Homo sapiens: one gene and its partners. Changing the gene in region 1 together with any one later gene gives a genetic interaction. Each region holds a gene or a part of one and is shown on either strand. Other genes may lie near its edges.

Region 1 (7,795 bases):
TACATAAATGGGCAACTATAGCCTCTCACTTTTTAAAATTCAGTTTCTTTTCTATAAGATAATCATTCTATCCCCTAACTAAAGTTAGTTATACATTGGTTCGATTATGCATTTCTGTGCACCAGAATATAAACAGTACAGCTTTGTTTGGCAAAAAATAACTTGATGGAGTCATATGGTGTTACTTTTTACCTCAGTGTTACTGAAAACTACAGCACGGTGATGGAATGCAGAATTAAAGAGGGTCTAACAACAGATAAACTTGCTTACCTTTAAGTTTATCCCTAAACCCATGCCTTAAAGTGTATGCCATAAATTTGGGCTATGGCTAAACTTAGGCACAGCCTTCTAATAAGAAAATATATAACAAAGGACTGAGTGAAACAGTCACACAGAAAATAGAAAACACTGCTCATTAAACCTTCAGAGTCCCTTTCTATGGTATAAAAAGGGAAAAGTGTTATTAACCAATTAATGACAGTATGTTACAGATAGTGCTGACAGAAATTCAAGGAAATCAGTATGTCATACATTAGGCAACACTCTTCTGTACATCTCTCGCCCCCAAAGAGATTATCACTCAACTGTAAGCTTCCTGAATAAAGGGACCATGTATTTATTCATCTTTTTATCCCCCACAGTACTCAGGACAGCATCTGGTATGAGTAGACCCTTGGTAATGGCTACCAAACTGGCAACTAAAATTCTCTAGGAAACAAAGTTCTTATTCAAAATCAGCCTCCAGGCATATTGAGCGCTTTTGAAGGTACTGCCGTACATGGGAAGGGGAAGAAGCTTTACAAAAACAGTAAAGGACATGGTCTTAAATTAGTCTTCTCCCAAAAAGTGAGACCTGAGGTGGGCATACAATGATAAACAGAATTTGTGCACATGGAGGCTTAATATGGCAGAACACCAAGAAAAGAGACCAGATGGAATGATTAGGGATTGTCTGATGCAGTAAAAAAAAAAACTGTCTGAGAGAAATGGAAGAAGTGAATGCCGGATAGTTTTGTTTTGCTCATTTCAGCACAGGAACAGGATACAAACGGCCAGAGCTCAACTGGAACTTGCAGTGGAATGGCACATCCATAAATCACTGGGCTGGTTCATAATATCACTACCACTATCATGCCTACATTATCTCATTTGGACTACTATGAAAATGAGTTTTGCTGCCTATAAAAATACTAAAGGATTAGAAACCAGAGACTGAGCCTATAGGGACTAGAGTCTTCTTCAGTGACATTCAGATTTTTTTTTTTCCTTCAAATGAAATCTTACCAATGACCCCAATACATAAACTGATAAAATCTGAACTGCTCTGGTTACAGGAGGTGCCCTGAAATTCTGCTTGAGGGCTTCTATATAATCACTGTGGTTGTAAAATTTGTCCAGGTGAGTAGAAACTACTCACTTGACAGAAAGGTTAGCACCCACCGAGACAGTGAACAGAAGAAGCAGAACTAGAATCCAGGAATGCTGACACTCAGAGAAGGGCTCTTCCTACTATATTCCATGTCGCTTCTAAAAACCAAATGAAGAAAATATGATTCATACTTACCATCTCTGTTCAGCCATTGCTTTCTTGTTCTGTACAAAAGGAGCTTGTTGTGGACATATGGTAAAAGGAACTTGACACACCAGCTCTCCACACCCAGTTTGTTTTCAACCAGGACTATGGGACTCCGGTTATACCTAGCTTCAGGACATGGGATCAGGCCAATTTCATCTCTTAATATGTAAAACATAAAAAAGAATTAAAAATAAGGATACTAACCTTTTCAACATTTTTCTAATTTCAGAGTATTTTAAAAACCCCACATATTTCCCCCTTCCTTACAAATATTATTTAGCTCACTTACTGGGATTGGTAGATGCTAATAGTGGCAAGAGTATGAGAAAACCAGTATGCTGTACTCTCTGTAGACAGGAGTGAAAACTGGTCTTGCCTTTGGATGGCAACTTAAAAAAAAGTCTTTCAAAATTTTGAAGGAACATACCCTTTGATCCAGCAATTCAACTGCTCAGAAATTATCCTATGCCAAAATATGTGAATCAGATGTTCACTGCAATGTTGCAACAAAACTAGAAACAATCTAAATGTTTATCAATATAAGACTAGTAAAAAAAAAAGGCCCATCCACATAATCAAGCCATTAAAAAACAATGAGGTAGATCTGCATATGCTGACATAAAAAAAGTTGCCAAGATATATGAAATGAAAACAAAAAGCAAAATGCTGAACACAGTGTACAGCACAAATCCTTTTGTATAATTTCTTTAGAAGATATATAGATGCATTAAAAATTTTCTTGGAAGGATAACAAGAAATTTTTGGAGAGAGAAAGGTGGTAAGGAAGGATTTTATTTTTATACAGTTTCAATTATCTAATAATTGTATGTATTTCTATTTTTTTAATGTCAACAAATGTGTTTATGCTTGCTTGCTAATAAATGCATGTGGACCAGAAACAAAGTATCAAAAAACGTTATTTTATCAGTGAGATTTTGGGCCATTTTTTCTTCTTTATATTTTCCTGAATTAAAAAACCACCCAAATAAATGTTAAAACACAAAATACATTTCAGAATTCAATAATTTTCCTCTGTGGTAGCATCTATATCCCTCAATCCACCTCAACTTAAGCTGAAAATTTACATTAAAGGCAGAGATTTAATAAACAATATGTAGGGCATTTGACTTACTTAGTAAATGAACCAGCAAACGTAAAAAATTTGTGCAAAACACATTCACATGCCTTTCAACTCTAAAGGAAGTTATAATTCTTGCCTACACAAAGGATCCTTTCTCAAACAGAATGTCCTCTGTTTAATTAATGAATAACAAGAAACTTTTTAACAATAAGAGTAGTTGAAATAAATGTTTTTAGAGTGTCTATATAGATATTTTAAACATGTCTTTAAAAAGCAGAATAATGAACTGGTTTTCAGAGTTTGTGTGTGACATTATGTATTATGTCCCTGGCATCCCCTTACCAAGAACACAGTGGTTTGATAGACCCAAAAGAGGGAAATTGGTTGAATTACAAAGTAGGAGAAACACCCTGTCTTTTTGTTGGGCCACTATCACAAATTGGTAGGAGGCTGTGGATTTAAAATAAAACCCCTCCTGGAAACTAAACTGAATAGCTTAGAGGTAATCTACTTTCTACTGATCACTTCATTAGTGGCACAGGGATTTATCAATAAAAAGGATATCTTAGGGGTTGCAAGACACTAACAATTCTTTCAAGCTAATTTAACTCTCAAGAAGACTGTGGGATCTATGGGTTTTTATCCTTACAATTGGTTCCGTTGACTCAAAGGTGTTTTGATATACTATATCAATACTATCATAAGTTTTCTGATTAACTACAATGTACTGGGTGCTTTCTTAGGTTCTAAAATTCAAAAAGAATAAAGCAAAGTGGTCTCAGACTTCAAAGAGCTAAAGTCTTGCTGGGGATCTGTGTCAATATCCATAATAAAATGTTACCACTTTACTACTCCAATAATATAAACAAAGTCCTGTAGGAAGAATAAGGACAAAGCTGAAAGAGCACCTGAGGTCAATGCCCAGTATTTCAAAATATATTTTGTGCATCTCTATTTGGTAGTATCCTGAAATCTATCTAATTCATTATTATGACCCCTAGCCATATCTAGCTATACTTGACTAATATATGACTGAATCTCTGGTATTTTCTGATGTTTGTGTTTTACTACATGAAGAATATTAAAAAATAAAGTAAAACTAAATAAGTAAATAAACTCAATGTGATTATTTCAGGAAATTCTGTTCTCTGAGATATAATAACCTACTTACAACACTTCAAAGAACTGCAAGAGTCAACAATATAACTGTTATAGTAACAAGAATAAAAGAATCCTGTTTCTGGGTATGGTTTGTTTTTGGGGGGGATTTTTTTTTTAAACTTAAATTCACAATATAAAAACCTGTCTTGCTCACTAATTAAACTAGGATTAAAATGCCCAGCTAATAATTTGGTATCTAAACTACAGAAAAGAGCCATCTGCACAATTAAAAAACACACTGCTTTGACTGTCTGTTCTTTCAAGAAATACTTTATAAAATAAGAATGGCTTGGATATAGCAGGTGCCCAATAGCTGCTTCCTGAAAGGCTGATTATCCTGGTACTTTAGTGATAATATTCAAATTAATAGTTTTCACTTCTTGTCCCTCTAAAAGAACATTATCTCTGATTTTCTCCTAATAAAGTATACTGAAAACAGCATGTGTCCAAGTCCTGGATGGAAATAGATATATACACACACACATATACATACATATCAGTATCAGGTCATTTTGGCTTCTGTAGACTTCAGTTTCCTCATTTGTAAAATGGTAGAATTGTATTATACCTCCAGTAAGGCAAATGGGATAGATTTCACCCAGCTTTCAAATTTTATGACTGAGAAACCTAGCAGCTATTTTCATGTGAGGAGAATAAAAACAGTCTTAACAGATAATGTAGAGCACTAGGGGGAAAAACACATGAAGAGGTAGTAGGGTGTAAAGACAAAAGTACTTGATTGGAAGTCCAGAGTTCTAGTTAGTTTCCATTCTATCCACTGACAGGCAATGAGAATTCGGCAAGTCACTTGCCATCAGTATCCTCATCTGAAACACAGGAATAGTATCTTCCCTGCCTGTTATGGAAACCAAATAATGTCATGTGAAAATGTGGCAAACTATGAAGTGCTAGACAAAGATCCACCAGTAGAGTTCATTGGTTAATAATGGAAAGCCGAGGCAAAGAATTTAAGCCTTTGTCAAGTTATGTGACCCTAAGACACAGTGTTATGCTGCTTTCTAAAAAACATTACACATACTTTGTAAACATAGGTAGGTCAGTAAGCTTCCAAATAATAGTGTGTTTGACTTCAGACTTCTGTGTCTCATCCCTTAAGTCACAGTCCACTTTTTTCTAGCCAATTTCGAATAGGATTCCTTCCAAAATCATTTTAAAGTTGGAAGGGACTGCATTCCTCTGTCATTTCATCTGATGAGGAAACTGAGGTACAGTGAGGTTTATGAGGATTATCTAAGGTCATATTGCTAGTGGCTAAGTTAAGAATCTGGGCCTCCTAATACTTAGCCCCAAACCCCTGACACTAGAACAAAGAGCAAAACAGGATTTAGATCAATTCCTTCTATTTTTCTGGAAATTTAAGTTCTAATTCCATACTAAAGAAACACTGGAAAACTCAGGAAAAACAAAACAAAACAAAAAAAACCCTAAAAGTCACTTGTAATCCCTGTTTTGCTATTAACATGTTTGGGTATATATCTTTTTTTTTTTTTTTTTTTTTTTCCTGAGACAGGATCTTGCTCTGTCGTCCAGGCTGGAGTGAAGTGGTGCAATCCTCACTCACTGCAGCCTCCAACTCCTGGGCTCAAGAAATCCTCTCACCTCAGATCTCCTGAGTAGCTGGGACTACAGGTATGCACCACCATGCCCAGCTAATATATATATATATATTTTTTTTTTTTGGTAGAGATGTAGTCCCACTATGTTGACCAGGCTGGTCTCAAACTCCTGGCCTCAAGTGATCCTCCCACTGAGCCTCCCAAAGTGTTAGGATTACAGGTGTGAGTCACTGTGCCCAGCTGGGTATACATCCTTTTTTCCTGAGTATTTTCAAAAAGTGGGATCATATTGAACATATTCTATAATCCTTTATGGAAAAAAACTGAGCAATTCCCATTAAACATTTTCCCACATAATCAATTTTGATATTTTTAATGGTTGCAATGAATGTGCTATAAATATCAAACATATCTCTAGTTATTTCTTTACAAAATAGTCTTATGAGAGGAACTACTAATAAATTTCACTCTTTTACACTGTTAGGTTTCTGGCCATTTACATTCCTGGTATTTAACAAGGTATTCAATTACCTGCATAACTAAGAAGATCATAGGATTTTTAAAGATATGATGGTTTGGGACAGCAATCAAGTTCTAATGGTGCTCACTTTTTAGGTCACCTTCATCACAGACTGCTCCAAAGGCAGAGCAATGTGGAACGAACCAGCACATTTACTTAAGATCAAAGTATGATACATCTCTTTGAGCGCCTCACTTCACAATAGGGATCCATTCATTGGCTTCCAGATGATGTTCACAGTTCATGTAACACTGATACTGACTTTGTTCCTTATGTTTAGACAGCTTCTCTGTCTATACTTCTCAGAAACACCATCAACCAGAACAGAGCCACTTATTATCCACAAAAGTTGCATCAACCAGCTTACCTTCTGGGAGGGATGGATGGTACCCAAATACTCAAACTGAATCCTATAGTGTGGAGCAACCAAACAGAAAACAGTCCAAGGATTCAGGAAATGGTAAAAACATTTTAAATCTAAATAGTAGTTATTTTCATTTTGTTCTGCTCCCACCCCCCAAAAGAACTGGAATTCTTTCCAGCATGACCAAAAAGGAAAGCTAGTAAAATATATCTAAAGGAACTGACCGTTGCATATTGATAATTAAAATTCTCCTGGTGATTTAGATATTTCAGAAACCTTATAGGCTTTCTCATTAATTCCAAAGATTATCAACTTATGTTTCACTGAAATTATATTACTGACCTTATTTAGAAAAAGCTACACAAATTACTAGTGTTTATTGTTACTTGCCATGCACGGTTAGGTTTTACATATATTTTATTCTGCACAATAATCTCATAAAGTAGGAATTTTGACCCCATTTTACAGAGGAAGAGTCTTGTCTAAGTCTACTCAGTTAATAAACGACAAGCAAAGACTCAAATCCAGTTTGACAGCTTAGACTATCAAACTCTAAACTCAAATTTTTACAACTATACTACACTATTATTTAAATAAATAAAAATCAGGTATAAGAAGCCCAGTAGACTCTGGCTTTCTATTCTTCAGTTCACCTTGCAGACGATCTAAAATTGCCTTTCATCATTCTTTACTAAAAAATGTTCACTGGTGCCTACCCATTGCCTTAGAAGTGTACATCCTTGAGCCAGCTTTTCTTCACCCCTCATGTCTCACTCAGTTTAAATGCTATTGCCTCAGAAAGAACCTCTTGACCTTATAATCTAAATTGGGTCTCCCTGTTTTTATTCTAAGTACCCTTCTTACTTTTTATGACTCTTTTCATAATCTGTATGTTGACTGATTAAAGTTCCATTAGGATAGGGACCATGTGTGGTTTGTTCATTAAACCACCCAGTTTTTAACCCTGTATACCCAGAGACCAGCATTGTGCCTGTCAAATGGAGGTACTCTTTTGCAGAATGTATGAATGGAATGAAAGAAATTAAATGAGAGTCAAGGATCTCCATAATCTGGCCCTACTGTACCTTCTCAGCCACACTTTGCTTGTTTAGGTCAATTCACTGCTCCCTGTGGAGGTCTCTGGCTCCCTCTGAGACTACAAATCCTACCCAGACTTTAATACTTGGCTTAAAACCCACCTCCACTAGCACCCCTATCCGAGACATAACCAGCCTCCTCTCCACTTCTATTAGACTCCCATAGCACTTGCTCATCATGCTCCTATCCAACTTTTACTATAAACTACTTTGGAGGGTTAATTTACTGTTCATGCAGTTAGTCTTAGGTCTCATCTACACCTGCACTATGCATCACAGTAGTCACTAGGCACATGGAGCCACTACGTACAAATCCATTTAAATTAAATAAAATTTAAAATGTGGTCCCTGTTCATATTAGGGACACTTCAATTGCTCAATAGCTACTATGGCTAGTGGCTACCATATGGAACAGCACA
Region 2 (7,834 bases), on another chromosome or scaffold:
CAACTATACACCCCTGGTCAGCAAGAAGCAGTTGGAAGATGAGACCTTTAACCACATGCCAAAGATTAGTCATTGTTGCTGTCAGGGTGTGAAGAAAGGTAGAGTCCTAATTCAGGAGAAGGAGTCAGGCTGGCAGGACCAGGGGAAAGCAAAACGAGAAAGCAGATAGATAAGCTATAAGTCTGCCTTTCTTCATGGTCCAGGACACATAGCCCTCATGTGTAAATCACTCACAATCTTCCTGTGCCGAGCTACCACCTGACTCTTGGCTGACAGAAAAATGCAAGTTAGCTCACTGCAACCTCGGCATTACCAATACTGCACAAAGTCTTCTTCAAGCGCAGAGCACAAGCACCATCCTATAAAATCCCTAGCAAGCTTTTGACTCTTTGCAGTCAGCTCCTCTTTCGCTGACCTGCCTGTTGCACCCTTGCAATACATTTTCCTACGTTCTCAAATAAATCTGCCTTTCTTTACCTACGACTGTCTTGGTAAATTCTTCTTACTGCCTGTACCACTGGCCCCAGATAGTTTCTGATCACCTGTGACACTCATTACATTAAATGTGGTTTCCTGGATTGGATCCTGGGGGAGTAAAAAAGACATTAGTGGACAACTGATGAAGTTTGAAAAATTCTTTAGTTTAGTCAGTAGTAACACATCAATACTAATTTTTTTTGTTTTGACAAATGTATGATGGTTATAGAAGATGTTAACATTAGGGGAAACTGGGTGAAGTGTATACAGAACTCTTTGTACTTTGCAATTCATAAATCAAAATATGTTTTAAAATGAAAAGTTTAAGAGGCCTCAGATTACTTTGAGATTAATTTACTGAGCCTATTAAATCCATCTATTGTACAATTTAAATAAATTTGGTTATCTTAAAATTTTTCTAAAATGATTATTGAATTCATTAGCGAAAACAAAACACCTATTTGTGTTTATAAGCAAAAGTCAGGTTTTGAATTTGGTATTAAACAATATCTTTTCAGAAAAGGAGATAAATATTGGTTGGGAATGAGTTACAAAGTCTCATCTTGCCAATAAGATGACCAAAACTTTGTATTCCCATTGAGAAAAACAAAAAATATTATAGTTAGCCAATGAGATGTCTAATATAGTTAATATATGGTTGACTAAATATAGTTTCCTTTCTGGCCTTCTGAGCATTCCTAAATCCCAAGTGTCACAGTCTGGCACATGTGTTCAAAGCCACAGAGAGAAAGTAAAACAATGACAAATTATGTAGGTAACTTAGCCATAATTATACCACCACAGATAAAGCTCAATAATACTACCTCAGATAGACAGAACCATTTTATATTACAGGGATTCTTTTCCAAATAGCCCTGGTAGAGTAGACCTGGAACATGTTGTTCCCAGAGCATCTGGCTCTTTCCTCAGATTTGAGGAACAAATCAGAAAATGACCAGTGTTGTAGTCAATGTGATACAGTCATCTGAACATTCTTCCCTGATTTTGAACAGTTGTGCCTTCAATGAGATGCTATTGTTTAAACACTTTTGTTTGAGGAGGATTTAAAAAAAAATCACAATTATCTTGTTGCCCAATCAGATCTCACTGGCTCTGCCAGTCACGGCCAGTTCCTTCTCAGGAAGGTAGGCCCCTGAGCTCAGCTGACTGGCAGAAGCAGTGCTAGGCTGTGACTGAAGGTGAGCAGTGGCGGCTCACTTCTGTTTCCTTCTGCTCAAGAGAGATTCTGCGAATGAGTTCTGATAAGTGACCAGATGTGGTTCTGCTCACCCTCGGTGGTCTCCATCTTTAAAATCGAGTGCCACAGGGCCAAGGAAGGAACCTTCTTAAAGTTCAAGGAGTTACTCTAGCACTGAAGGTTTCCTGAGGAAATGTAACCACCATGCCTTCCACTGGTGGGCTTGAACAAGAAGCAGGAGAGAAAGTGAGGAGAGGCAGACAGAAGCAACAGAAAGTTTAGCGCGGAAGTTGAGAAAGGGCCTGGCCAATTCCAATTTCTAAGGCCTTCAATAAACAAAAAGAAGAAGAGATGCCAATATTGGTTTACTAAGTCATGGTATGTTTTAGATCTTTAATTAATAAAGCTGCATGTGAACATATCTCTAATCTGTCAAGGCATATCTCATTTTGAAATAACATTAAGAGCTGGGCGCGGTGGCTCACGCCTGTAATCCCAGCACTTTGGGAGGCCGAGGTGGCGGATCATGAGGTCAGGAGTTCAAGACCAACCTGGCCAACATGGTGAAACCCCGTCTCTAATAAAGATACAAAAAAATTAGCCGGACGTGGTGGTACGTGCCTGTAATCCCAGCTACTCGGGAGGCTGAGGCAGGAGAATCGCTTGAACCCGGGGGTGCAGAGGTTGCAGTGAGCTGAGATCACGCCATTGCACTCCAGCCTGGGTGACGGGGCAAGACTCTGTCTCAAAAAAAAAAAATAATAATAATAACATTAAGAGTCTAATTTGAATATTCGTGAATATGAAGCTCAAGCTAAATAGTCTTACTATTCACTACTCCGTCCCCAGGTGCCTACCCAGAAGACCGCAACAGAATGAGAGTAAAAGCTTAGAAAAACGGGCTAAAGAGAACAAAAAGAGAAGTACTGAGAGGAAGATACAGAAACAAAGTAGAAAAAAAAGGAGAGAGAGGAAGCTGGAAGACCTGGAGCACCGCTCATCGTGGTCTCAGACGCACCAGGTAGCAGTGTATGGTCACCTTCCACTCACCTAGCCCTAAGGGGTATCTATGATGCTTTGTTGCTTAGTGGGAGAAATCTGCAACCATCCATTAGGAACCCGCTGCAACCCCCCCACCTCCCGGTTCAAGCGATTCTCCTGCCTCAGCCTCCTGAGTAGCTGGGATGACAGGCGCGTGCTACCACGTCAGGCTAATTTTTTTGGTATCTTTATAAGAGACGGGGTTTCACCATGTTAGCCAGGTTGGTCTTGAACTCCTGACCTCACGATCCGCCGGCCTCGGCCTCCCAAAGTGCTGGGATTACAGGCGTGAGCCACCGCGCCCAGTTCTTAATGTTATTTCAAAATGAGATATGCCATTAGGTGCTCATTGAGCACTGACTGTGCTGGGGACTGAGGAACGGGAGCCAAGATAAACATAAAGATTGTCTCTGTCTGCATAGAAAATGAAATGTATTTTTTGCACTCTCTGGACAGCAAACAAGGAGATAGGTCTCGAAAGAGAAAGGGTTCGCTTACTACAAGGACGTTCAATAACAGTTGTCAACCCTGACGGAATAACCTCAGTGGCAAGTAGCCTGCAAATCATATTCGTGCTTGAAATTCAGGTAAGTCCTTGGAAGCTGGTTTTTCATATACACGAATATGACCACATTCCAGCTGTCCAGGAACTTTCCAGGTACTGAAGAAGCCAGGAAGGAGATCACACTACCTTGGGGCTCCCGTAACTGCGTGCCAAGAGGAAAGTATCACCTAAGCCGAATCTTAAAGGGGTCAGCTTCTTGAAGAAAGATACCAACGATGCCTTAAAAAGAGGACTGTCGACCGACAGCGTAGAAGAGGTGAAAGTGTAGGTCACCGAGGGCCTGTCCGGCCACGCCTTTCCTTTTAGGTATAAACTTACTTCATTTTTCAACCATGGCTGCGATGGTAACTTTGAAAATAAACCTAATTTCCATACGAATATTTGGTGATTCACACTTTCGAGGCACCCCACAGCACGGTAGCCAGAAGTCTGTTGTTTTGCAATTTTAATCAAAGGCCCCTAACACATGCCTTGAAACACAACTTCATCTGTGCCAATACATTATAAATTCATAAAAAAGTTGAGATCTGTTAAGGGAAGGAGAGGTCAGCTTCGGTGTAGTGAGCTCAGCTGTGGTGAGCTCGGGGTCAAGTGAGGGTGTCTCTGAGGCCAGCGCCCCCAAGCTGCGCAGGAGCGGGCGTGGGCGCCCCCGGGTCAGGGCTCTTCGCAGTCGCGCGGGTCCGGAAGCGCGGCGCGGGCCCAACGAGCGCACGCGTACACGCGTGCGCAGGGGAAGACCGAGTGCCAGGGGCTGAACCGCAGGGAAGGGGGCGCGGCGCACGCAGTATGGCGCCCAACATCTACTTGGTTCGCCAGCGGATCAGTCGACTCGGCCAGGTGCGGCCTGAGGAGAAGCCTCCCGGTCTCCGCCCCGGCCCGCCCCTCGCCTCCCCAGCCGCCCCACTCCGTTTCCGCCCCAGAGTCTCAGCCAGCAGCTCAACCGCCGCCGCTCCGCCCCGCCCCGCCCCACGGCCGCCCGGGCCCGCCTCCGAGCCCGGCCAGCGCGCCAGCCCCGCCTGCCCTTCCTCGCCACCGGGCTGCTCTGGTCTCGTCGGTCCCCTCCTCCGCCCCGTCGTCCTGACTCTCTCTCCCTCCTTTCCTCAGAGGATGTCCGGCTTCCAGATCAACCTCAACCCGCTCAAGGAGCCACTCGGCTTCATCAAGGTCCTCGAGTGGGTGAGTGCAGCCCGCGCCGGCCAGGCCCGCCTGCCGCTCGGCGCGGCGCCCTAGGCGGGGAGACGGGGACCTGCGAGCCGGGACGCAGCCCTGCCGCGCGGGCTTTGAGGCCGCCGCCCCGGGACTGGGAGTGGACGGCAGGGAGGGCAGGGAGGCCGCGGCCTGGGCCGCGCGGGGCGGAGACGCCGCGGCGGGCGTCGAATCACGAGCTCCTCGGCCGCCTGGCTCCCAGGGGAGCCACCCTCCCACACCGGAGCTCCCCTCTGGGTGTCCCCGTGGAGTGGGAGTTCAAATTTCCCCTTGGCTCCACTGCCTCCCGCAGAGGAAGGGAAAACTTCCTGCTGCGGTCTAACCGAAACCCGGCGGCCGGCGTCGCGCTCTGCGGAGAGGCTCAGCGGTTACGTCCCTGCCGGTGCCCACTCGAGGTCTAGCTCCCTGGGAAGCCGATTTTGTCTTGTAGACGTGATTTGGCGAGCATTCCGTTCTTAATTTGTTTTTAAGATGGGCTCCGAGTTAAAAATAGTAAAAAAATAAACTGTGGGCCAGGGAAACTAAAGAAAGTCCTTTTAACAAAACGCATCGAGTCAGATCGGTTCACTTAATAACACGTTAGGAATGGACATCGAGTTTGTTTGGGGTATTTCCAAACAACATCCTGTTTAGAAAGTCAGCTTTTAGTCCTTTCCTGAGAACACTCACAATCATTAACATCAAAGAACGCTTATTAATTCGACCTTGGCAATGATCAGTTACTTGGAGGAGTTGGTGAATATACCAGGCACTGCGGGCTTCCTTCAAACTTCGCGGCCCACTACATATTTCTGCAGGCAAGTTGTGTTTATAGACAGCAGCATTTACATCCATAGCTTTTTCGCCCTTTTCCTTAGTGATAGAGTGGTGAAGAAGAATAAGAACTTTCAATTTCCTGTTCTAAATAACCTACCGAGGATGTTTTTAAAAGCAGCGTAGAAACTCAGTTTCTCTGATGGGTACCTAATGTGATTTCCTACTTGGACCATTGTAACCGCGCAAGGGGTTAGGCAATTTCACCATTCACTGAACATTTTGTGTGTTTTCTGAAAACTGAAGTAGTGCTGACTTCACACAAATGACTACTTGAAAGACGCATAAATAAATATACTTGATTTTTTTAAACCTAAGTCCAGATTTAAGTATAAAGAAAACCATGATTAAAGCATTTAAAAATTGCAAGAGGAAAATCTCATTAACGAGGCTAATCAAATATGAACGTTAAGAAAGTCTTATATCTAGATTTAGTCTCATTGAGGATTATAATTAAATGTATAACTAATAATTTAGATTTCCACTTAAATGAAGAGGCAGTTGTTTATATCTGTGCTTATATTTTTTGTCAAGTTTTTAAACAACTGTAGACTTAGCTTTTTCCTTAATATTTCAAGCACTAGTGATAAGTTCATTCGTGTTTTGATGTATTTTGAAAAATATCCCTTTTTAAGCATCTTACAGAAATACTTTCAGTTTGAACAGCTTGTTATTACACAGGAGAGCCTTTTATGAAAAGACTACACATTGTTAATGGTGTGGTAAATATTTGACTATTTTATACCAGATCTGTACTAAACACTAGCATACCACATGAATAAAACATGGTCTTTTTCTCATGATCTATTAAGGATGAAGGACATACAAAATACAAAAATGCCATGTAATAAACTGTGATAAAGGTGTATGCAAAGAATAGTAGAAGAAATGAGGGAGAGAGCATTTGCTTGGAGGAACTAGGGAGGACTTCATAGCTGAGAGAACACTTGAAGGATGGGTACTGGTTCACTTGGGGAGTGGCTTTCTAGGCAGAAGGAATCTTATGTTCAGTGGAAGGAAATGTTGAAGCAGCATAACCCTGTATGAGAACTTAAAAGTAATTGGGGGTTAGTTGGAATATATGCTAGGTTGGAGGGTACGGTTTGAGATTGTTCTGAAAAGATTTCAGAGGTCGGCTGCTTCTGGGGTTAATCTTTGGGAATCTGGGCCCTTTCCTTAGGAAAATGCATATGTGCAGGGTATGGAATATTGGAGTGTTTATTCCATTCAAGCCCAGAATCCCTGCCATAGGGGATGGGAACTTAAAGGCTTTAAACAAGTCAATGATACGACTAATTTTAGGCACTCATAATTCCTCAATCAATCGATTTCTCCCTCCAATTCTGACCTTTCCAATCCATCCCTCTAACTGCCGACAAAATGAAAATTTCTAAAAGGATGAATTGGAAAGGCTAGAATTGGAGGAAGGGAAATCTGTTGATTGAGGAATTATGAGGGCCTAAAATTAGTTTCAGTAGGACTGAAGGGGTTTACAAAAGGGGGTTACAAATTAGAATATATATGGAAGGTAACAAAGAGGGAGGACCCTAAGATGACTGCTGTCTTTCTGACTTCGTTGCCATTAGCATATTCAAGGTAATGTCATTAAGAGGAGGAGGAGCAGATTTTATGGGAAGTCAAAGGTTTCAGATGTATTGAGTTTGTGGTCTCTTTAGATCTTTTGGAGGTATCCTATAGGATACAGCTATATATATGGATCTAGAATTTAAAATATGAGTTTGGGCTGCAGATATAGCAGATATCTGCCTGCAAAGGAGAGAAGGAATGGTTAGGAAAATTGAGGGAAATAATGCCTTGGCATCACTATTAGAATTTCAAGAAAAGAGTACCCCAAAACGTAAGGTGCAATAGAATGGTAAAGTAAAATAAGGACTAGTTGATAAAATAAGGACTAGTTAGCAAGAGCAGTTTCAGTAAAATCAAAAAGCCAGATTTTAGTAGGCTGAATGAATGTGTGGTAAGAAAGTGAAGACAGCATAAACCGCTGTTTGACTGTGAAGATGGGAGAAATTTGGTGGTTACAAAAAAAAGCCACTAGTTCAGCTTACAACTCAGTTGCTTAAATGCATTCTCTGGAGACAACCATTGTATTTGGTATGCAACAAAAGTCTTTATTTGCATTTCCCATTTTATCCTACTGACAAGAGAACTCAAGGGTCAAGGTTTAATAAAATTTTTACTGCTTCATCAGACATTCTTAAGTAAAACTGGTGGGGGTTTTTTGTTCTTTTTTGTTTTTGGTTTTTTGTTTTTAACTGCAAGTATGTGGCAGTGAAATAGAGTTTGGTATTCTTCCTGATTCTTATTAAACCCGGCAGTTTTCCCCACCAGTTTATCTGCTTCATCAGTACAAATGTCAGCACAGTGTAAAAGGCAAATAATGTCTTAGTATCGTTAGGAAAATGTTTTACCTTCATGAACTCCTGAAAGAGCCTTGGGAGCTTTCAGGGGTCCACAGACCACGCATTGAGAATTGATGAGGTAAACACCACTGGGGACCAGAAACAGAACAG
Region 3 (7,795 bases), on another chromosome or scaffold:
AGTAGCTGGGACTACAGGCGCCCACCACCACGCCTGGCTAATTTTTTGTATTTTTAATAGAGACAGGGTTTCACCGTGTTAGCTAGGATGGTCTTGATCTCCTGACCTCATGATCCGCCTGCCTCGGCCTCCCAAAGTGCTGGGATTACAGGCGTGAGCCACTGCGCCTGGCCTCAGTAAGTTTTTTAAAGGCGGTTTTTGGCCAGGTGCGATGTCTCATGCCTGTAATTCTAGCACTTTTGGAGGCCCAGGCAGGAGGGTCACTGGAGTTTAGGAGTTCGAGAGCAGCCTGGGCAACATTGTGAGAAAAAACAGAAAAGAAAAAAAGAAAGAAAAAGGCAATTTTTGTGGTAACTTTTTTTCTTTATGTTCAATTGAGAAGTCATTTTGGTCCGGGCGTGGTGGCTCACACCTGTAATCCTAGCACTTTGGGAGGCCAAGGTGGGTGGATCACTTGAGGTCAGGAGTTAAAGACCACCCTGGCCAACATGGTGAAACCCCGTCTTTACTAAAAATACAAAAATTAGCCAGGCATGGTGGTGTGTGCCTGTAGTCCCAGCTACTTGGGAGGTAGTTGAGGCATGAGAGTTGCTTGAACCCAGGAGGTGGAGTATGCAGTGAGCCAAGGTCATGCCACTGCACTCCAGCCTGGGTGACAGAACGAGACTCCATCTCAAAAAAAAAAAGAAAAAAAAAGGTAAGTCATTTTGCTATTATGAAAAGAAGTTCATAAGCCTAATAAAGCTTTGGAACATAAAAAGCAAAATCCCTTTCAAAAGAATAATGGCTTCTTTCTTATAACATTAACTGGTAAGTTGATAATGCTGGTCATAAACCATATTTTTAGTTCCTTTGTGATTTGTATTATCTTCTTGTTTTTCTCTGAATTGCAGAATTTTAGTTATTGCTATACAAATAGTTTCAGGAAGGATAGAACAACATTTGTTTTCTAGCCATCTTTGGAGTAAAGCTGCGAAGTTGCATCTACCATTACTATTTCCCTTCTTGCCCCCTCTGAAGTTTATAAGTGACTAATCTGCTTTGCTGGGCAAGTCCTTGGTTTCCTTCTTTTAAGACTTTTATTTTCCTTTTTTTGAGACATAGTTTTGTTCTTGTTACCCAGGCTGGAGTACGATGGCGCAATCTTGGCTCACCGCAACCTCTGCCTCCTGCGTTCAAGCGATTCTCCTGCCTCAGCCTTCCGAGTAGCTGGGATTACAGGCGTGCGCCACCACACCTGGCTAATTTTCTATTTTTAGTAGAGATAGGGTTTCTCCATGTTGATCAGGCTGGTCTCAAACTCCCGACCTCAGGTGATCCGCCCACCTTGGCCTCCCAAAGTGGTGGGATTACAGGCGTGCACCACCGTGCCCAGCCAACACTTTTCTTTATGGGGGTAACAAGATCAGTATATGATCATTTTCATAGTTTGTTTTCTTTAGAATGGTGCTGTGATTTTTGTGTCTACTTTTTATGTCTAATTATTTGTTGTTATAATTTTGTTAAAGATCTCAGGAAACAGGCTCGACAGCTGGAAAATGAACTTGACCTGAAACTAGTTTCCTTCAGCAAACTATGTACAAGTTACAGTCATAGCAGTACCCGAGATGGAAGACGCGACAGGTATAGGTACTACCAGATTCTGTCTCCTATGCCTTAACTGTGTTTTTAAAGCATTAAAAAATAAACTAAAATATATAACTTCTGTAAGTTGGTCTATTGGTGAATTTTTGGTGTTTTGTTTTGCCATTCATTGTTTTATTTTTTAGTGACTTATTAAAATTCTTCTGAATTCTCGAGACTAGCATTTATTTGGAATCCTTAGGCAAAGATTGTTACAGTGTCAGAAGAAACCTGCTAGAACTTCAGAATAAGTTTGTATCAAAAATATAAGTGTCTAATTCAGCCAGTGTAGGGAAAAGGTGGCTGATTTGCCCGTGTGGCATGTATTTCTTGTGTTTTTCAATTGCTAAATGGACCTGTGGATCTACCCAGGTGCCAGGTATACATACTGCTTTTCTGGTGTTTATTGTATTAGAGGGTATCTAATGCACTGTGTATCCTTGTTATTAATTATCAAAGCTATCTTTAATTTTGGTACTTTTTTGGGAAACTAGTGTATTACCATATTAAATGTATGGAAAATACATTCTTATCTTTGAAGCTTATGCTCTCTGTAAGTCATCCACTTGTTTCAAGAAAATATTGGGAGTAGCCAGGCACAGTAGATGACGCGTGTAATCCCGGGACTTTAGGAGGTTGAGGCGGATGGATCACTTGAGCCCAGGAGTTCAAGACTAGCCTGGGCAACATGGTGAAACCCTGTCTCTAAAAAAAATAGAAATAAAAAAAAATTTTTTAATTAGGCAATATTTAAGACAGTTACAAAGAATAATATCATGAACCCCCATGACCCTATCTCCCATTTTTAAAAAATGATAATTACTCATTCCACTGAAGCCCCTTATGGCACCCCACTTTCTCCCACCCCATAATCCACATATATTCTTACTGCATGTTTATATTCCTGAGCAATTCATAGTATTCTATTATGTTATATAGTATATATATAATATAGTTATTCTACAACTTTTTCTTTAACATTTTTGAGATTCAGCTATGGATTCATTTAACTCTGGTATATTCATTTGTAATTCATATGTAGTATTTTATGACTATCACAGTTTAACCATTTGATGATGGCCATTGTTTCTAATTTTTGCTAATTAATAATAATTTTGATAGCTGACATAAGAGTGTTCATTATATGTTAGGTAAGAGCTTTCTATAAATGCTGCTGGGAACATTTTTACGCAGAATGTTTCTATATACCTAGCGGTGAAATTGCTGGTAGCAGAGTTGTTGTTAATCCACACTTATTTTACATACTTTTTCAAAGATTAGAAGTGAGTAGGATATTTGTCAGCTAATAAAAACAATGAAATCTGAGCTTAGATTTGAATCTAGATCTATCTCCAGAGCCCACACTCTAAACCCTACTATAGTGTATACATTTGAACAAAAAGCTGATTTCAACACTATAGCCAAATTACTATTTCTTTTTCATAAGGACTCCTTGGTTGTAAAGGCAGCAAGGCCAACATTGACTCTAGGATCTAAAAATAAATTACTAACACATCAAATAGATTGCATTGCTTTGGGCTTGGCTTTATTTAGCAAGTAAAGAGAATGAAGAATGTTCTTTCTATGCATTTTCTATGTTCTGTGTGCTTCATGAACTAATACTTTTGTTATTCCTCTAAAGGAAAAACTATCTTGAAAACATTTCCCAAGAAATTCTACCACAAACTGAAACTGGCTTTGTAGAATTACTTCAGCCTAACTCCCCTTCTAAATAAAAACCTAAGGCCATGAGGATCAGGATTTGATGTCTATTCTAAAGTGTCTTGTTTGATGCCCAGGTTGGAAGCATGTCACTATGAGTCAACTAAGCAATAACTAGAATATTATTTATTCCAGGCATCTTTCTTTCTTTTTTTTTTTTTTTTTAACTTTCTGTATTTTGAGAACTTCAAGGTCTATGAATCATTACCCACCTATAAGATGAATTAAATTTAACTGAATCCCAGTATTGTGAAGAATTAGTGTTTGGCCATTTCCCTTTACTCTTACACTGTCCTGATGAATATATGAATACAATGAGTATAGAATAACCAGTAGTAGAGATTGCTCTCGTGTTCATTCATTTATTCAGCAGAAGTTTAATGAGCATCTACTATGTGCCAGGCTGTATACTAGGTGCTAGGCATATATCTATGAATAAGACAGAGCAGTTTTTTCCTTCCTTCATGAAGCTTTAATTCTATTGGCATATTGTTCTTTTTCATATATCTGGTAGAGGAGGATTTATATTAGTAGTCTACAGAGCATTTATTTAATACTTTTCATTTGCCACACCCAGGCACTGTCACAGGGTAGCACAAAGTCTTCAGTAAGATTGGAGACTATAGTCATTGCCTGGGCATTTATCTGTGTCCAGTATAACTCTGATCTGTATTGAGCTGCTCATCAGATGCTAATACATACCTAACCTGATGAAGGTTAGTGGTGTTTTGGAAAAGGCAAAAGAAACACTGAGGACAGGTGGGTTTAGAATTTGAATCTGTCAAACCTAAGTTTCACTTGTAAAAAGATAGATTTTTGACTATTCAGATTTGAAAAGGCAATTTAACACAATTCTACAAAACAAAAGGATGATTGCATACTGTAAGTGAAAATGGAGAAGATTAGTACCAAAGCATGCAGGACATGGCTGTATATATTGGATTTAAAGCCAGTTCCTGAGTATTCGTTAGCTAGTTATCCAATCTGTGGATCATTTAAACCTCAATCTTATTTCCTCTTGGTAAGAGTCAAGGAAAGAAGAGAGAATGTAATGTTGAGGTTGAAGGAACCATAATTCCTTTGGGGTAAAAATGTAAAAGATCGTTTCTCACAGACCCTATATAACATAATCCATAATTCATTTTATGGCTCCTATTAATCACCTTATTATTTTAAGTATGTTTTAAAGGACTGATTTGAGTAATGGATCCTCTTTAACTGAACTTCTTTTTAGTTCTGATACAACACCCCTTTTAAATGGATCAAGCCAAGACAGAATGTTTGAGACAATGGCGATTGAGATTGAACAACTTTTGGCAAGGGTAAGTGCTTTCTGTTAAATGGCTATTTTGCAAATAACTGTATACTTGTTACGTAGGATCCTGGATTATATTGAGACAGACATGTTTATTGAAATTATCCATTCCATTCAATATGTGTACCTCCCCACACCACTTGAATTTTGATGACAGCCATTCTCAGGTGATATGATGTTATTTTGGTCTTTATGGATTATGTGGGGGAATGCTGAATTCTTACTTGCTCTCTTGTTTGTTTTTTGTTTTGTTTTGTTTTGTTTTGTTTTGCTGTCAACCAAAAGGGCATATAGGCAAATAATTTGCTTTTAGCTGTTTATAGTGCTTAGTAAAATATTTTGATTGTTTTTTTTTTCTTTATTTCTAGCTTACAGGGGTAAATGATAAAATGGCAGAATATACCAACAGTGCAGGTGTCCCCTCCTTGAATGCAGCCCTGATGCATACATTACAGCGGCATAGAGACATATTGCAGGTAATATATTGGGCTCGAGATGTTTTCATTATCACAGGAGTTTGGGTTTTTTTTTTTTTAATCCCTGCATTGGATATGTGCACATATATTTAAAAGGACAAAGAGAAAAATCTGAGAAAATAAATGCCATGCTAAAGGGACTTGTTTTACTTTTTTTTGGGGTCACCATTATAAAATTCTGAAAATATCTAATAGCTCTTGCTATTTCTTGGCGAAGTTGAGTAATATTCATCACTGGGTACATATACTTCCACTATGGGAGACCTAGCTAGCTAGCTGTAACAGTGAAATAGCCAATGGTCATGTATAGACAATAACGTGGTGGGTAAGCGTGTACTTTCAGCTAGCTTTGAAGATAATATGGAGGGGGAATTATTTACTATACTTAGTATATTGTTTAAGAAAACAGTAAATGTGTATGCACCAATAAAACTAAATAAACTTTTAAAGATTTAAATGGAGGATATGTTAAAAATATGGTAGTACAAATAGGAAGGCAATTTTTTTTTTTTTTTTGAGATAGGGTTTCTCTGTCACTCAGGCTGGAGTGCAGTAGTACAGTCACAGCTCACTGCAGCCTCAACCTCCCAAGCTCAAACAAGCCTCCTACCTCAGCGTCCTGAGCATCTGGGACCACAAGCACATGCCACCACGCCTGGCTAATTTTTTAAAAGCTTTTGCAGAGACAGGTCCTTGCCATGTTTCCCAGGCTGGTCTCTAACTCCTGTGTTCACGAGGTTTTGCTATATTGCCCAGGCTGGTCTCTTAACTCCTGTGTTCACAGGTTTTTGCTATGTTGCCCAGGCTGTTCTCTTAACTCCTGTGTATGGGCAATCCACCCCCTCAGCCTTCCAAAGTGCTAGAATTATAGGCATGAGCCGCTGTACCCAGCCACAAATATTTTTAATATTGAGAAAAGTCAGCAACTATTTCTAATTTTAAAAACTGTTTTTAAAAGTAGGAATAGATGGCCGGGCGCAGTGGCTCGTGCCTGTAATCCCAGCACTTTGGGAGGCCAAGGCAGGTGGATCACCTGAGGTCAGGAGTTGGAGACCAGCCTGGCCAACATGGCGAAACCCTGTCTCTACTAAAAGTATAAAAATAAGCTGGGCATAGTGGTGGGCGCCTGTAATCCCAGCTACTTGTGAGGCTGAGGCAGGAGAAGCTTGAACCCAGGAGGCGGAGGTTGCAGTGAGCTGAGATTGCACCACTGCACTCCAGCCTAGGCTACAAGACTGAGACTCCATCTAAAAAAAAAAAAAAAAAAAAAGTAGGAATAGAAAGATACTTTAATACAAAAATGTATTATCGGGTTAAAAGCTAGCATTGTGTTTAAAGAGAAAGCAATAAAAACATTCCCATTGTATGAAACAAGACAAGGATACCCATGATCGCTACAAATGTATAACGTTGTTTTTTAAGTTCTTGATGGTGCAATTAGACAGTAAAAAGAAATGAAATGTATGCTGGGCATGGTGGCTCACACCTCTTATCCAAGCACTTTGGAGGTCTGAGGTGGGCGGATCATTTGAGGTCAGGAGTTGGAGACCAGCCTGGCCAGCAGGGTGAAACCCCTTCTCTACTAAAAATACAAAAATTAGCGGGGCGTGGTGGTGGGTGCCTGTTATCCCAGCTACTTGGGAGGCTGAGGCAGGAGAATAGCTTGAACATTGAACCTGGGAGGTGGAGGTTGCAGTGAGCCGAGATTGCACCACTGCACTCCAGCCTGGGCAACAGAGTGACTGTTTCAAAAAAAAAAAAAAAGATGTAAATATTGGAAAGGAAGAGGCAAAATTTCTGTGAGGTAGCAGGATAAAATTATATGTCTAGTACACGCAAGAAAATTACCTGATAAAAAGTTAGAAACAATTAAATTCAGTAAGATGGTAGATCACAAAATGAATACATAAAAGCAAATAGTTTTCCTATTATGATAGGAAATAAATGATAACCTGTTAGAAAATACAATGGAAGAAACTATAAAGCATTTATATATGAATTAAATAAGAAATGTGTAGGACTTGTATGTGCAGAATTCTACTGAGGGACATAGAACAAGATTTAAGTAAAGGAAAGAATCATTCTGTTTTTGGATAGGAAGACTTTCGTCTAAATTGCATGACATCCCAGTGGAAACAGCAGGGTTGTATCGTTGTTTGTTTAATTAAAAACAAATGACATAATGACACCAAAGTTCATTTGGAATCATAGACATACAAGAACAACCAAGAAAAACAACCTGAAAATGAAGATAAGTGGTAGAGGGTTCCTAGTTCTACCAGATCTTAAAACCTGTTAAAAAGCTGGAATAGTTAAGACAGTTTGATACTAGAGAAAAAAAATAAATAAATAAAAACAATTAAACAGAGTTTATATGTAGACCCAATTATGTTTGGAAATTTTTAGTTTCTGATAAAGATGTTGTTTAAAATCAGTGGGGCAAAGAGAAATTATAAAATAAATGGAACTATAACCATTGCTTAATTATTCAGAGATTTTAAAAAAACAATTCTATCTCAATCCTCACATCCAGAACAAATTCCAAATGGATCCAAGAAGGATAGAAAAAGAAACCATAAAGCAGAGGTGAAATTTGTAAACTTTGGAGCAGAAAGGACTTTCTAAATAAGACTTGATACTGGAAACCATAACGAATGGC
Region 4 (7,657 bases), on another chromosome or scaffold:
TTTTAGAGGCATGGTCTCGTTATGTTGCCCAAGCTGGTCTCGGACTCCTGGCCTCAAGAGATCCTCCTGTCTCAGCCTCCCGAGTAGCTAGGATTACAGGATGAGCCACTGCACCTGGCAGAAGCACCATTCTTATAGTATTGTATATTTACACCCTCATATTTTCAAAGTTAAAGGAGCAAAATGTTTCCCATGCAGAAGTAGAGATGGAAGGAGTAACTACCACCATGGCACTTAGATGTGACCAAATTTATAATAAACAGAGTGTGATTATAACTAATCTGCATTTTTTAAATTTACATATGAAATTCACCAAAAAAAAAAAAAAAAGGGAAGGCAAGGGGCAAAGGAGGGACAGCAATTTAGATAATAGGTCTCTCTAATCCCTTCCAGTTCTTGATATATTCTGCTACTCTTTACCTTACCAGGCCTAGCCACAGAATTGGAGTCTTACACATTTAGGGTCTGAGAGGTTTCTATTCCAACCCCCTCGCTTTTGAAATGAAGGCCTACAGCATTCAAGTATCACACACAAGGTCACACAAGTGGCAGCCCCAGTTTCATAATCCTGATCTCCTGACTACTATCACATACCCTTTAGACTCTAACACTATGAAATCACTAGAAAGTAATCCACTAATTCGGATTAAACATATCCTTTGTTTTCCCCAACAGCACAAGTGCTATCTCACTTCCACTAGCTCCAGCTCTGTAATGAAATAGAAACAAACTTGGTTAAAACAATCCTTTAAGATCATATCCACAGCAAATGTTTTTGTACTAATTCACTTTAAAAGGCATAGACTTCTATTTCAGTGGAGTCATTTATTCTCATCTTATCCAGAGTGTTTAAGATTGTTTTCCACAGCATATCACACAGGCCAATAATGTATATCTAGCTAGACAAATAAGACAACTTTCTCACTATATGTAATCCTTTCACAAAAGAAATAAAGTGACAAAATCCTGCATCGAGCAGTTGATAATCCATTGCTACGTATTGAGGAAAAAGTTTAAAACAGATTAGGCCCACGGTAAATTTGTTTCTTTGTTTCGGTGGCATGAACTAGGGAGACTGATAAATCCACTTAACAGGCCTTACTCTACAAGGAGAACCTCGGTTGGGTGTCATGCCTTGTGTCTGTAATCCCAGCACTTTAGGAGTATGAGGCAGGAGTTTGGCTTGAGCCTGTGTGTTGGAGACCACCTGGGCAACATAGGAAAATCCCATCTATGAAAAAAATTTTAGAAGTAGGGCCGGTTGTGGTGGCTCATGCTTATGTTCCTAGCACTTTGGGAGGTCAAGGCAGGAGGATCTGTTGAGCTCAGGAGTTCGAGACAGCCTGGGCAACACAGTGAGTCCTCCTCTCTATAAAAAATAAAAAAACACTAGTCAGACATGGTGACTCGTGCCTATAGTCCAGCTACTCAAAAGGCTGAGGTGGGAGGATCACTTGAGCCCAGGAGATTGAGACTGCAGTGAGCTATGATCATGCCACTGCACTCCAGTCTGGGTGACAGAATAAGACCCTGTCTCAAAAAAACAGCGGGTAGAGCAGAGGAATTTTGTTTATATACTCCAGTTAACCTTCCAGAAAATTTTAACATACCCTAACTTGTCATCCATGCAATACATTTAGAAAAAGTGCTAACCAACCATGTATTGGGTTGAACTACATGAAATGACAACCAACCATTCTTGACTTCAAAAACACTAATTTCATATGCCTGAACTTAAATGAGAACGATATCTCAAGGAAAAAAGGAGAAAAGAAAAAGAAAGATCACAAGGCTGTGAAATTCCTATTAAGACAACGTTTAACTTTTTAACACTCAAATATGTATGTGCAATAATAGATGATCATGTAAATAATTTTACTCATGCCTTTTACACACACACAGACAAATCATGCTGGTTTGCTAACTCATAGTATTTCATTATTCTATTCCTTGGTATGTGCAAATCCTTCATTCCAGTAGACACAGAGGACATTACATGAGGAACACTATGAAAATGTGTTGTCAAACTGGTGGCTCACGCCTGTAATCCTAGCACTTTGGGAGGCCGAGGTGGGCGGGTCACGAGGTCAAAAGATGGAGACCATCCTGGCCAACATGGTGAAACCCCATCTCTACTAACAGTACAAAAGTTAGCTGGGCATGATAGTGCGCGCCTGTAGTCCCAGCTACTCGGGAGGCTGAAGCAGGAGAATCGCTTGAACCCGGGAGGCGGAGGTTGCAGTGACCCGAGATCGCGCCACTGCACTCCAGCCTGGCAACAGAGCGAGACTCCGTCTCAAAAAATAAATAAATAAATAAGTAAATAATATCAGAATATATTACATAAGCTTTCAAATTCTGAAGAAGCTTTTAAAAAGTAAGACTTTATGAAGTGACTTTTACAAGTTATTTGAGGAGAGCTTTCATTCTAGTTTGTAGAATTAAGGCTATTTCAATTTATGAAATACAAAAAATTATTTGAAAGATACGTGTATCAGAAGGTATAGCTAAAATATGAAACTGATTACAGCCCCTGGAGTGCAAATGTGGTTTAAGGATCAGGACGGCCTTGAACATAACCTACTCATAATCAGATGGCAAGAATGACATCAGCTGGAGAACTCTCTTCCAAGACCTGGATGAAATCACAGCCCTCTAGCAACATCCACCTAGATCCATGTCTTACCTTATACTCAACTCCACTGTCAATATTATTTTCCCCAAGGAAAAAGTAAAAAATGAAAGCACAACACTAATCTTCTGTCTCCACAGGATGTGGCAAAATGAGAAATAACAATTACATTTTATTTTCAAAGGTGGCCCACGGCTGAAGCACTCGGACCTTACACTAAAGCGAAATTTTCCAGCAGTCACAAGATCCAGTTCTTTCACAGCCGACTAATAAAAAAGTAAAAGAATCGACATTAAGCTGCGCCCAAACAGGCCAGGAATGGGACCTAAGGCGTCACGAAACTTCCCGAGGACATTATGTATTTAGAGAAGGCCCCACAGAAACCCTCAAGTGGGAAAGCTATGTCTCCCGGGTCTCGGGGTGGCAGGCAGCCTGAACCCCGAGAGGTTCGAGGCAAGGCGCCCCCGGCCGGATTCGGGCCCAAACCAGCCCGCCACGCCCTGAGCTCCGCGCAGCAAACCTGCCGGCCGAGCGGCGGCCCTCGGAATGGTGTTTTCTCGGCGCTACAGGAGGGAGAGCGACCCAGAGAACTTGGGCCTGGCAAAGGCCGGGAACCAGGCAGGCGCGGGTGGGGAGAGGAAAGCAAACGTCGCGGGAGAGCGCGGCCCAGAGGCCGAGGAGGGCGCGAGCGGAGCCGGCCCGAGCCCGCCGCTGCAGTTTACAGTTCCCGTCGCGGCCCAGGAGACAGCAGCCACCGGGGCAGAAAGAGCCCAGCCACCCTCGTCACGACCCGCACCTCCGCCTCACCTGGACTTGCCCACCCCACTCTCGCCGATGATGAGGATCTTCAGGGTGGTTAGCACGTCCTCGTCCATCCTGACCCCGTTCCGCTCCGAGCCCAGCTGGCCGCCCGGGTGCGCCTCTCAGCCCTTCAGCAGAGTGAGCTGCTGCGCATGCGCGCCGCTCCACGTCTGCCACCTTCCTTTCACACCGGGTGTTCAGGCTGCCGAAGCCCTGGACTCCCCAGTTCCGCCTTGAGGTAGCTCCACGGCTGCGCGACCCAGAATCCCCGGCGTTTTTCCGGACTGCGTGTTCCTCCCCTGCGCAAGCGCAGGTGGGGAGCGCTGTGTGTGACTTTGTTGGCTTCTTCTTGAGGTCTAGCTCCGCCCCAGCCTCAACCTAACCCTCCTTTTGAGTCAGTGGGAGGACTCAGTCAGGAGAATATCAAGCTGTTTTATTTCGGCAGCTGCTCATAACAGCTGCACTGCGGTGGGAAAAGCACTGTGCTTGAAGCAGATTATCTTAAATTTAGGTCCAGCTCTACCTTATAACTGCCTTGTCATACTACCCAGCTTTCTTAGCCTTTCTCCATCTCTGAGAGACACAGTAACACTTCTTAGAACATCTGCTTCTTATTGTTATGAAGGTTAAGTGAGTTAATTTGTGAAGACATGTTGTTAACCAAAGTGCTCTATAAAAGGTGTGATCAGGTATTATCTTGCTGGCTTCCCCTCTGTTATAGTGGAGAGCACCCTCTGCACCCTAATTCATCTTGAAAGGGAGGCGTAGACTTCAGGTAGGTCAGGTGCATTACTTCTGGCGGTGCAACTTCAAGTCAACTCTCCTTCCTCATAAGAACTGCTACACCCATACTGCAGGAAGTGTATGTCTACACCTTGCCTCCTGCATTAAGTTGTAAATCTTAGTGAAGGTACCAAACCTCATTCATAATACTTAGCACAGTGCCTGGTACATGGCAGGCACTCAATAAACCTCAGTTCTCTTGTCTTATTTCCTTATACCTGCAGCTAATGTCATATACAATGGATATTTGATTAAAGACTACATATAAATAAAATTTCAAATGTTAAGAAATTAATTTGTTAAATAGCTGGAAAAGCCCTTTCAAAAGATATCCCAATGGCTTCTCCTCCTTCAGGTCTTCGCTCAAATGTTGCATTCTTAAAGAGGCCTTCCCTGTCCATTCTACTGAAATATGCAAATCCCTCCAGCATTCTCTAGACCTCTTTACATTGTTTTTCTGCATAGGATTTAACCACTCTCTGATACACTATATATTTTACTACTTTATTAGAAGTCTCATGAAGGCAAGGATATTTTGTTTTGTCTACTGGTATGTCTTCAGTATCTAGAGTACTTCATGGCACATAATATGTGCTAAATAAATGTATGCTGAATGAATTAATTGAATGAATGTTGTAGAGTCCATTCCTAACCTTAGAGAATAATGTCAATGAAACAACCTCCACTTCTCATCAGATAGCCCTTGAAACTTCAGTCAAGTCTATCTAGCTTACTTTTCATTATGACAAAAAGATCTTATTTATGAGGTTCACAGTATTGTCAAGCTCTCCTGCCCTGGGGTCCCGAGATCCCTAGAAATCCCTGAAAACCTTTCAGGGGGGTTGCAAGATCAAACTATTTTCATAGTTAATATGTTATTTTTTCATGCACATTCTCTGATGATAATATAATGGAGTTTTCCAGAGGCTATATATTAATAACATGTAATAGCAAAACAGATTGAAGGCAGAACAAGATATGTGAACTTACTGGTTTTCTATGATATTAAGCCAGATATTAAAGGGATTTCCTAAAATGTAAAACATTGCCACTGTTCTCAATTTTGTTCTGTTTTAAAGTAGTTATTTTCATAAACATTTCTATTAACTGGTAATAGGTTTATTATTGTTTTTAAGTAAATTAACATGTTTGAAATTTTCTCAGTTTTAATTTCTAGTAGGATAAATAAGAGATGTAATCTCTTTGGGGTTCTTACAATCAAAAGCTCTTTCAGGTCCTCAATGATTTTTAAGAGTATACTATAATTTGTACAACCAAAAAGTGTGAGAACCATTGCACTGTGCTATTCACACCAAGATAAATACAAAAACAAAAACTTCATCAATAAATCCAGGGCTATCTCTTGCAACCTGTAATACTGTTGACGTACTTTGGCAATATCATTTTCTCTTGGATTTCCTCCATCTCTTGGCCATTTCCTCTCTTTCTTTTTCTTTTCTTTTCTTTTCTTTTTTTTTAAGAGATGGGATATTGCTATGCTGCCCAGGGTGGTCTCTAACTTCTGAGCTCAAGAAGTAATCCTCCTACCTCAGCCTTTGAGTAGCTGGAACTGCAGGCATGCATCACCACGCCTAACTAATTTTTAAAACATTTTTTTAGAGATGGGGTCTTGCTATGTTGCTGGTCTCAAACTGCTGGGCTCAAGCAATCCCCCTGCCTCGGCCTCCCGAATTTACATCTCTGGCTGAGATTTTTCTCCTGAGGTTCAGGCCAACATACACAACTGCCAAGACATCCCCACATGGGGGCTGGCAATAAAGAGATGTACTTAAAAGACACAATGAATAACTGTCCCATGCTTAGTGAAGAAGAGGGGAAAGAAAAGGGAAAGAAAAACATCGAACATTTCTCTAATGTTTCAAGCCTCGGCACTACCAATCTGAGAGAAAACCCAAGACAGAAACAAGAAGGAATATGAGTTTCGTTTCAGCCATAGTGAATTTTATGTAAAGGTGAGCCTTGAAGGCAAAATTTTTCAGACCTCTTTTAGAGCAGTGGTTCCAAGATTCAGGACAGATAGCAAGACACTAAAAAAATGAACCAAGGAGATGGCCTAGGTGTTCTAACCAACAATTTGGCCTAGGTGTTCTCTTCTATATACTATTATCCTTACATCCCTGGAAAACACAGCCAAATCCTTTCTTAGGTTTCAGACATAACTGACTGCCCTTTTCCCTGTGGATCCATCTTCTAGTATTAATTATTTTTACCATATCCAAATATATGATCACCTCATAAAGGAATGTCTATGGCAATATTCTTAATACCTGAAGTTTGGGATGAGCAATGAGCAAGCCCAGTATGTAGGAAGAAATTGAAATGGCGAAACCACTTGGAGATGTGATGGAGAAGGCCCATCCCATGTTGCTGTCAGTAACATGCCTACAGTGGGCAGCCCCAGAGATAGACAACAGATGAGAGAAAAAAACAGATTCAGGCCTTTGACTTTTCTCCATCCTTCGGCATCAGTAATGAAGATAAGAGAAATGCTGCTTGCAGAACTCACATTCTGTGAACAGGTACCAACATGAGCACTGTGACTCATGGCTTATGTAGGACTGCTTGGGTCCAAGTGTAACAGGCGTCTGTGGCTAGAGTTTAGGAGTTGGTAGTGAGAGAAGTCATACAGCATTGCCACCTCCGCCCCCAGCTCCATTGCCCCTGGCTGAGCTGAGGTTCCGAAACAACCCCCACCCTCTCCAGGTACTGCTTCTCCTTGCCTCGGTTGATATGCACAGGAGCTTTGGTATGCAGTCAAGGAAGAGATTACTTTTTGTTGTTGTTGTTGTTGTCGTTAGAGATAGGGTTTCACTATGTTTCCCAGGCTGGACTCAAACTCCTGGGCTCAAAAGATCCTCTTTCCTTAGCCTCCCAAGTGGCTGGGACTACAGGCACATTATACCATGCCTGGTTTAAAGAGGAGTTCATTTCGTTGTTTAATTATTTGGGTGAAGGCTTGGGGATTTGAGAGAAGGGTTAGAAGTAAATTCTGTGGAAAAGGTAGCTGAAATGTCATTTTGACCACTTGGGTGGGGTTTTAGCCCTATGATTAGAGGGGTCAGGGTCAAGAGCTGGAGTAGCTACTTTAGGCTTGCAGCCTGACACAAGCAACTCTGTCTGAGGGCCCGTGGGACAGGATAGCTGGGGCTGAGAAGAAGGTCATTGCACTATTTTTTCCATTTGACCCAAGACCCTTTTCCAACCTTCTCTGTTACAATCTATATAATATCACCTTCTACCAAGGAACTTATTTTACAGCAGAAGTGTGGCTGTGGGCTCAGGCATGCCCTTGGACTTCACTGGTGTTGTCACCAGACCCCACTTCAGGAAGCAGCTAGTATGATAGACAATGGGATGGCCCATTGCCCACTCAGTTAAGGTGGCAGCAGGGAGATAATATTCTGTAAGGTTGCACTGCTG

The links.
Region 2: changes in PTAR1 (region 1) and SYPL1 are lethal when combined (synthetic lethality), as found in Homo sapiens cells (one study listed by BioGRID).
Region 3: changes in PTAR1 (region 1) and GOSR1 are lethal when combined (synthetic lethality), as found in Homo sapiens cells (one study listed by BioGRID).
Region 4: changes in PTAR1 (region 1) and RAB18 are lethal when combined (synthetic lethality), as found in Homo sapiens cells (one study listed by BioGRID).

The regions. Positions count from the first base shown.
Region 1 is NC_000009.12:69,749,217-69,757,011, forward strand, and holds part of PTAR1 (protein prenyltransferase alpha subunit repeat-containing protein 1), read right to left. Parts: intron 1,735-7,795; coding exon 1,565-1,734; intron 1-1,564.
Region 2 is NC_000007.14:106,108,763-106,116,596, reverse strand, and holds the start of SYPL1 (synaptophysin-like protein 1), read left to right. Parts: upstream 1-4,284; 5' UTR 4,285-4,385; coding exon of another isoform or gene 4,386-4,388; coding exon 4,389-4,457; intron 4,458-5,206; coding exon of another isoform or gene 5,207-5,284; intron 5,285-7,834.
Region 3 is NC_000017.11:30,479,635-30,487,429, forward strand, and holds part of GOSR1 (Golgi SNAP receptor complex member 1), read left to right. Parts: intron 1-1,508; coding exon 1,509-1,623; coding exon of another isoform or gene 1,624-1,629; intron 1,630-4,579; coding exon 4,580-4,667; intron 4,668-5,028; coding exon 5,029-5,136; intron 5,137-7,795. UniProt on the Homo sapiens protein: Involved in transport from the ER to the Golgi apparatus as well as in intra-Golgi transport. It belongs to a super-family of proteins called t-SNAREs or soluble NSF (N-ethylmaleimide-sensitive factor) attachment protein receptor.
Region 4 is NC_000010.11:27,500,220-27,507,876, reverse strand, and holds the start of RAB18 (ras-related protein Rab-18), read right to left. Parts: upstream 3,574-7,657; 5' UTR 3,508-3,573; coding exon 3,440-3,507; intron 3,433-3,439; exon of another isoform or gene 3,153-3,432; intron 2,899-3,152; exon of another isoform or gene 2,785-2,898; intron 1-2,784. UniProt on the Homo sapiens protein: The small GTPases Rab are key regulators of intracellular membrane trafficking, from the formation of transport vesicles to their fusion with membranes.